2 linked regions of the Homo sapiens genome follow. The protein of the gene in region 2 purifies or fractionates together with the protein of the main gene of each other region. This does not show direct contact. Each region holds a gene or a part of one and is shown on either strand. Other genes may lie near its edges.

The links.
Region 1: the proteins of PPTC7 (region 2) and AKAP10 purify together in Homo sapiens (co-immunoprecipitation; one large-scale study listed by IntAct). This does not show direct contact.

Annotation. Positions count from the first base shown.
Region 1 is NC_000017.11:19,908,177-19,911,829, reverse strand, and holds part of AKAP10 (A-kinase anchor protein 10, mitochondrial isoform 1 precursor), read left to right. Parts: intron 1-1,851; coding exon 1,852-1,904; intron 1,905-2,553; coding exon 2,554-2,649; intron 2,650-3,653. UniProt on the Homo sapiens protein: Differentially targeted protein that binds to type I and II regulatory subunits of protein kinase A and anchors them to the mitochondria or the plasma membrane.
Region 2 is NC_000012.12:110,548,761-110,552,413, reverse strand, and holds part of PPTC7 (protein phosphatase PTC7 homolog), read left to right. Parts: intron 1-445; coding exon 446-625; intron 626-3,653. UniProt on the Homo sapiens protein: Protein phosphatase that plays an essential role in mitochondrial metabolism and biogenesis. Positively regulates biosynthesis of the ubiquinone, coenzyme Q. Dephosphorylates the ubiquinone biosynthesis protein COQ7 which is likely to lead to its activation.

The DNA of each region.
Region 1 (3,653 bases), on a different chromosome or scaffold from region 2:
GAGTTTTGCTCTTGTTGCCGAGGCTGGAGTGCAATGGCGTGATCTCGGCTCACCACAACCTCCACCTCCCAGGTTCAAGCAATTCTCCTGCCTCAGCCTCCCGAGTAGCTGGGATTACAGCCATGCACCACCACGCCTGGCTAATTTTGTATTTTTAGTAGAGACGGGGTTTCTCCATGTTGTGGCTGGTCTCGAACTCCTGACCTCAGGTGATCCTCCCGCCTCAGCCACCCAAAGTTCTGAAATTACAGGCGTGAGCCACCGCGCCCAGCCCAGAGATTTCTAAACAGAGTTCTAACCAGATGCTTTTCCCTGTCAGTAGAATGAGAATGAATTGGAGGTGGGAGAGACTGGCATGAGGGACACCAGTCAGCCAGTGGAATTAGCTGGTAATGTTGATAGGAGAAGAAAAAGATTCAAAGTTAGGTAGTGGTAGCAAGAATTAGAGGGAAGGTCGGATTTATGATATGTCCAAGGTTGAATTCTAAGGTGAAATTTGGTGGCAGATTTCATGTGTAAATTGGGAAGGTAGATTGAGTTTTTTTAACATGGGTTTTCTAACATGTCAATAGAGTGACTCTGCAGGGGGGCCTGACGAGAGAACAGTGCATGGGGTGATTCAACAGCCAGTTGAGCCTTCATGCAGAGCATTTAACACTGTGACTCTGTAGACTCTGGTTGGCAGTAAAATTTCATTAAACCAATATTTAAACCCTTAGGTAATAATAAAAATTGAGGGAAAAGGATCCAGGTTTTGTATTTTTTATGAATTCAGTTATTGAATTAAACAGGACCTTGCCTCAAGAAATAATCTACCAACAATTAACTTGTTTTAAAGCAAAGTTAGGAAGTGAGCATGTTCAAATTATTAAATAAAAAAGTAAGCTGTGTATTTCATTCATAGAAATAGAGGCTGGCCTACTTCGGATGATTCTCAGCATGTGATTACAGATGTGGGCTTATACATCCTAGGGAGTTAAGGCGTACTCTGGCTTGGATAGAGTAGAGCTCTTTGAAACTCTTCTCTCACCCAGCTAGTTTATATAGACTAGAGAACTAGAATGTAGCAGCATACTCTGTCTTAGAAGCCCTTTTATATAGGAGCTGGTCTGGAAGGTTTGAAAACATAACAAATGTGTTGGTGTCTCCCAATGTATTGCTAGATTCTTACCCAAGAGCATTATCCTGGTTAGGGTTTGGTTTGGTTTTGTTTTGTTTTTTAATGTTTGCCACAAACTAACACTAGATGTTAGTTCTTTCATCAAGTGAGGAGAGTAGAAGAAAAGTCCAGAACTCTGAAACACCTTTTCAAAAGTTTTTCAAGCCATGATGTTTGCAAGTTAAATGCTCTGTTATGTAAGCAATATAATCAGTTTTTATTAATGTAACATTCCTTAGTGTTTTGGGGTATCACACAAAAAAGAATATCCATATCTGGAAGCAACAGCTTTTAAATAAGAGCATTGTGGTGGTGGTGGTGATAGTGGTTTTTTTTTTTTTTTTTGAGTTGGAGTCTCGCTCTGTTGCCCAGGTTGGAGTGCAGTGGCACGATCTCAGCTCGCTTCAACCTCTGCTCCCAGGTTCAAGCAATTCTTCTGCCTCAGCCTCCTGAGTAGCTGGGATTATAGGCACCTGCTACCATGCCTGGCTGATTTTTATTATTTTAGTAGAGACAGGTTTCACCATGTTGGCCAGGCTGGTCTTGAACTCTTAACCTCAGGTGAATCACCCACCTCGGCCTCCCAAAGTGCTGGAATTACAGGCATGAACCACCATGGCCAGCCAAATAAGAGCATTTTTAATGTAAAATTATGCATGAAATGTACATTCAATTTTGTCTTTGTTTACTAGGATCCATGTTCTCACAAGCTATGAAGAAATGGGTGCAAGGAAATACTGATGAGGTAAATCCTACCTTTAGGATAAAAAGATTTCTGTTTATAAGTGCCACCCTCATGTAAGTGAGGTTTAAAATTTTCCTTTTCTTTAGGTCCCATGTTTAAGCAGCATGGCACATTTATGTTCTCTTACCCAGAATGTACCAAGAAAGGGTGGTCCCTTCTTAACATCTAACAATTGCCTGGTAGTAGCAGTGAAGGTATCTTCAGTCAGAGGCTAGGACCACTGAAGGATATACATGCATTCAAGTTTCCATCAGCCAGCAGGCATCAGTAATCAGTGTGTAGATCAAAAGCTCAAATGTTTCCTTCCCCACTGGCAGTTTTACTTCAAGTAGTGGAGGCTTGCTTTTTTAATAGTTAATTAAGTACATTGAGAGATGGGAGGTGAAAAAAGGAAAATGTTTTATTTTGACCATCTAATATGAAAGTAGTTCGGTGTTAGGTATCCAGTAGTTGACACTGGAAGACAGGGAATGACATGTTAATATTCATAGCCAGAGGGTGGCCCAGGTTTTTTCGTACATGGGAATGAAATTCTTATCCAAATAAGTAGAAATTATGTGCGTAAGCCATTTGTTAAGAGCACTGAGTATGTGCATCTCGATCCATCTAATGAATAACCATTATCACCAGTTTAAATTATTTTCTTTAGGCCCAGGAAGAGCTAGCTTGGAAGATTGCTAAAATGATAGTCAGTGACATTATGCAGCAGGCTCAGTATGATCAACCGTTAGAGAAATCTACAAAGGTAAGGATGACTTCGTTTTGTGTAAACTAAAAAGTATTATTTTCCAGGTGTAAAAATAAAAAAGAACATAAGGGGTTTCTTTGCCTTTGAAGGATTAACTGCTGTGGGGATTACCTTCTTATCATAAGCAACTAGAAAATTGACAAACTAAATGAAACAACTGTTTGCATATATTGGACAATGGGCAATACAGGGAAACCATGGAAACCAAACAGAGCCCAGTAGTCTTGCTGAACGAAAGAGTTAAATATCAAAGTTCAGGCCAGGTGCAGTGGCTCACGCCTGTAATCCCAGCACTTTGGGAGGCCAAGGCGGGTGAATCACTTGAGGTCAGGAGTTCAAGACCAGCCTGGCCAACATGGTGAAACCCTGTCTTAGCCGGGTGTGGTGGCAGGCACCTGTAATCCCAACTATTTGGGAGGCTGAGGCAGGAGAATCGCTTGAACCAGGGAGGCGGAGGTTGCAGTGAGCCGAGATCACACCACTGCACTCCAGCCTGGGCGACGAGCGAAACCCCATTTCAAAAAAAAAATCAAAGTTCAGAGAGCTCAATTTGAGTAGAAGTTGTAGGATAAGGTAGCAGAAAAGAGGAAGCTGCCCAGAAAGAAAGCCGTAGAGATATTTAGAGAGATTCCCATGGATCCTTGGCCTAGGAGTGATCTGTATATGTGTGGGGTGAAAACGCATGTGTCCAGGTAGAGAACCCCCCAGAAATTAGTAGGCTGAATGATTGCTGGAACATAGGGCTAAGAAAAGTTCATGGCCAGAAGGATCTGGCCAGAGTAGAGAGACTTAGTAATACACAAGGCATTGGGTAGTGTCTTCACAGAGGTTATGCCTTACTACTGAAGATAAATTAGTCCTAGAGTACAAGCACCTGAACCAAGTTTCAAAGCAAATTTTTAAAGGGTCAAATTACCTAACAACTGCATGCCAAAACAAAGGCCTAACCCTCTTTACAGTAACACAACAAAATTCAGCACTTCACAGTGTAAAGTTAGAAT
Region 2 (3,653 bases):
GACCAATGTTTGGAGTTAAAAGGTTGCCGCTTTTGATGTTCTTTGTGATCTCCAGCTCTGACTGAATTGTATCGTCACTAGCATCAGCACTTTGCTTAAAAATCAATTTTCATTCTTATAAAAGACAAAGTATTAATGACACAAATATGTCTATACACAGATGCTAATCCTGCTGAAATTGAACTCTTGGCTGGTAGGCAATGCCACCCTGTGGTAGCTCAAAAGTTTATTCATCAATATATGAAAGGCCAAATTCTAAGTAGTGAATGTGGCTTAGGAGTGTTAGTGTAGAATACATTAAACGTGAGTGCTTTTTATTCTGAATTTTGGAGTGAATGTATGTAGTAGCATGTAGTGAAATTAACTGTTAGGAGAAAACAGAGGTAAGAATTCCTGAGAAGTTGGTAAGATTGTTCTTTTACTGTAATTTTTGTTTTTTCTTCAGGGGTTGCAGATGGTGTAGGAGGCTGGAGAGACTATGGAGTTGATCCATCTCAATTCTCAGGGACTTTAATGCGGACGTGTGAACGTTTAGTAAAAGAAGGACGGTTCGTACCTAGTAATCCCATTGGAATTCTCACCACAAGCTACTGTGAGTTGCTGCAAAATAAAGTCCCTTTGCTCGGTAAGTGGGTATCTTATGTGTTTTCCTCTAAAGAAGCCCCCTAGATAGTTAAAAACAAAACCAAGAAAATCATTTATCGGACCAGCTTTTTTCTGAGGCTCTTCCTACTAAGCAGAGTGTGATAGAGAAACTATAGGCTAACCGCTGGGCGCAGTGGCTCACGCCTGTAATCCCAGCACTTTGGGAGGCTGAGGTGGGCAGATCACCTGAGGTCGGGAATTCGAGACCAGCCTGACCAACATAGAGAAACCCCATCTCTACTAAAAATACAAAAATTAGCCAGGCATGGTGGCGCATGCCTGTAATCCCAGCTACTTGGGAGGCTGAGGCAGGAGAATCACTTGAACCCCGGGAGGTGGATGTTGCGGTGTGCCGAGATGGCGCCATTGCACCCCAGCCTGGGCCACAAGAGTGAAACTCCATCTCCAAAAAATAAAAGAGAAACTATAGGCTAACCAGAATACGTAGTACTGCTTGGAGGGAATGTGGATAGGTACAGCCACTTCGGAAAACAATTTGGTATTAAATATGAACATATAGTATGCCACAGCAGTTGCACTTCTAGGTGTTTACCCTAGACTAGAGAAACTCTTGCACAATACGTGAACCAAAAGATAGGTATGAGAATGTTCTCAAAATGTTGCCAATAGCAGAGAACTGGGGACAACCTAAAAGTCTATCTGTTGTAGAAAAATGCATTGTGAAAAGAAACGACTTAAAGCTGCATGTTCTACTCAGGAACATGTTGTGAAGGGAAGAGAGAACATTGCAGAATTCCACCTGACAGTCTGATTCCATATATTTCAAGTTTAGAAACATAAAAAGTTAAAACTGTATTGTTGAGGGATTCTAAAATTTGGTAAAAGAAGAAAGAAGAGCAAGAGGAAAGAAAAGAAATGGTCTGGCCTGCAAAATTCAGTTCATTACCTGTGATGAGTTCAAGTTGTGTTTGGTCACCCCACACTGCTAACAGGTGATTAGTCGGTGAAATAACTTGGCACAAATTAGATCCCCGATAATCTTGTATTAGAAAACTTAAAACCAAGTATTTAGGGTTTGTTTATGTGGTATGCTAATGGAGCATCCTTTGGCCAGGCCTCTACGTTTGTTTGTTACATGATTTCCTGGGAACTTACCCAGCCTTCTAAGCAGTCTCTCAGAGAGGGTATTATTACGTTTCTGCTCATAGCCAGCATCTTTCTAGTTACTAGAAGGCCTCCTTCCCAGTCACCATTGACATTTAAAATCAGCCCCTGTTCGGCCAGGGGCGGCAGCTCACGCCTGTAATCCCAACACTTTGGGAGGCCGAGGTGGGCGGATCATGAGGTCAGGAGATTGAGACCATCGTGGCTAACACAGTGAAACCCTGTCTCTACTAAAAATACAAAAAATTAGCCGGGTGTGGTGGTGGGCACCTGTGGTCCCAGCTACTTAGGAGGCTGAGTCAAGAGAATGGTGTGAACCTGGGAGGCGGAGCTTGCAGTGAGCCAAAATCGCGCCACTGCACTCCAGCGTGGGCGACAGAGCAAGACTCCATCTCCAAAAAAAAAAAAAAAAAAAAAAAATCAGCCCCTGTTTAGCGTTAATGGAGATCACCACAGTTGTTATAGAATTTGCTTTCAGTTTAAGCCCTTTGTAAGGAGTTCTTTTTATCAGTCTGCTGTCTTCTGTCTTTGTGCTGTGATTAACTAACTTGTTTTCCTTCAAACTGAAAAGGGATCTTGTCTTGCAGTTTCAATATATACTGCTTTGTCTTAATTCCCTGTTTTGGACATGCAATCTGGAGCTTGTCTGGCATAGTGAAACATTCTAGATGCTATTTCTAGCACCTCTCTGTCAACTTGCTGTGTGACTTTGGGCAAGCCACTTAACCTGTGATCTCCTTGCTTCACATGTTAAATGGAGAGAGAGCCCCTAGACACAGATTCCAGGGGACTGCCTCCTGCATGTTCTCAAGAGTGGCTCTGCTGACCCTCTGACCCCCGATCATTTACTTTGACTTGAGATAACTGGTTACAAAACACGTAACCATCCTGATTTTACACTTTAGAAGCTTTGGTTTTTGCTGTGCCTTTTTCTTTTTCCTATTCCTACTTTCCCTTTCTGTTCACCCTCATGTAACTGGGAGATATTAATAAAATACATTTAAATTTAATATTAGAGAAAATAATATTTTCTTACATTGAATATTGTGATTACTTTTTTCTCCTAAAAGGCACATTGAAATAATCTTTCATCACCATGTTTGACACACCTTTTTTTCACAAAATCTACACATCTCTAGGCTGTTTGTAATGAAACTCAAGCATATTTTGACAAAGACAAGCTGCTGAGTTTTACTGAACTTCAGCTAGATATAATTGTAAATCATGACAACTTTACCAGATAAGTTAGTTAGGTAATTTTTTTTTTTTAATCCAGCAACTGCTAAAAAGCCTACAAAGCAATTCCAATATAAAAGGCAAGCTGGTAGCTGTAACCACTTATTTCTTTGACTTTCTAGCTGCGTTTGGGTCTAAGGGCATTACAGACTAATTGTTGGCATATATGATTTCCTCAGAAACCTTTAAATGGATTGATAAGGTCCTAAGCAGCCAGAGTATCTTAAGAACCTGAGGGGTTGGTCCTAATAAAGTTATCCCTTTTTCTGCCATACAAAAGGCTTAGTAGTAGTTTACAAAATAAGGAGCTGGGTGATAAAAATATTTCCATTTGAGCATGAGGGACTCGCCTGGGTTCCTGTCTATATGGGTCATTTGTCTAAACATCCTACACTGTGGTTCTCAGCACCGCTTTTCTTACTCATCTTTGCCTGCTTGTGCCTCTCCAAACACGTGAGAATGATTAGCTCTTCTCCCAATATTAGGCTGCTGGGGCCTGAGCCACGTGCACACATCAGGAATTTGAGGAGGCAAAAGAGGAGGGTACACTCCAAGCCCAGATGGTTCTGTAAGGCTGGGCTTATACTTGTTGGTGCTGCTTTGGATACTGAAGCTCAGTCACTCACCAGGACTGTTTTGATTCCAAC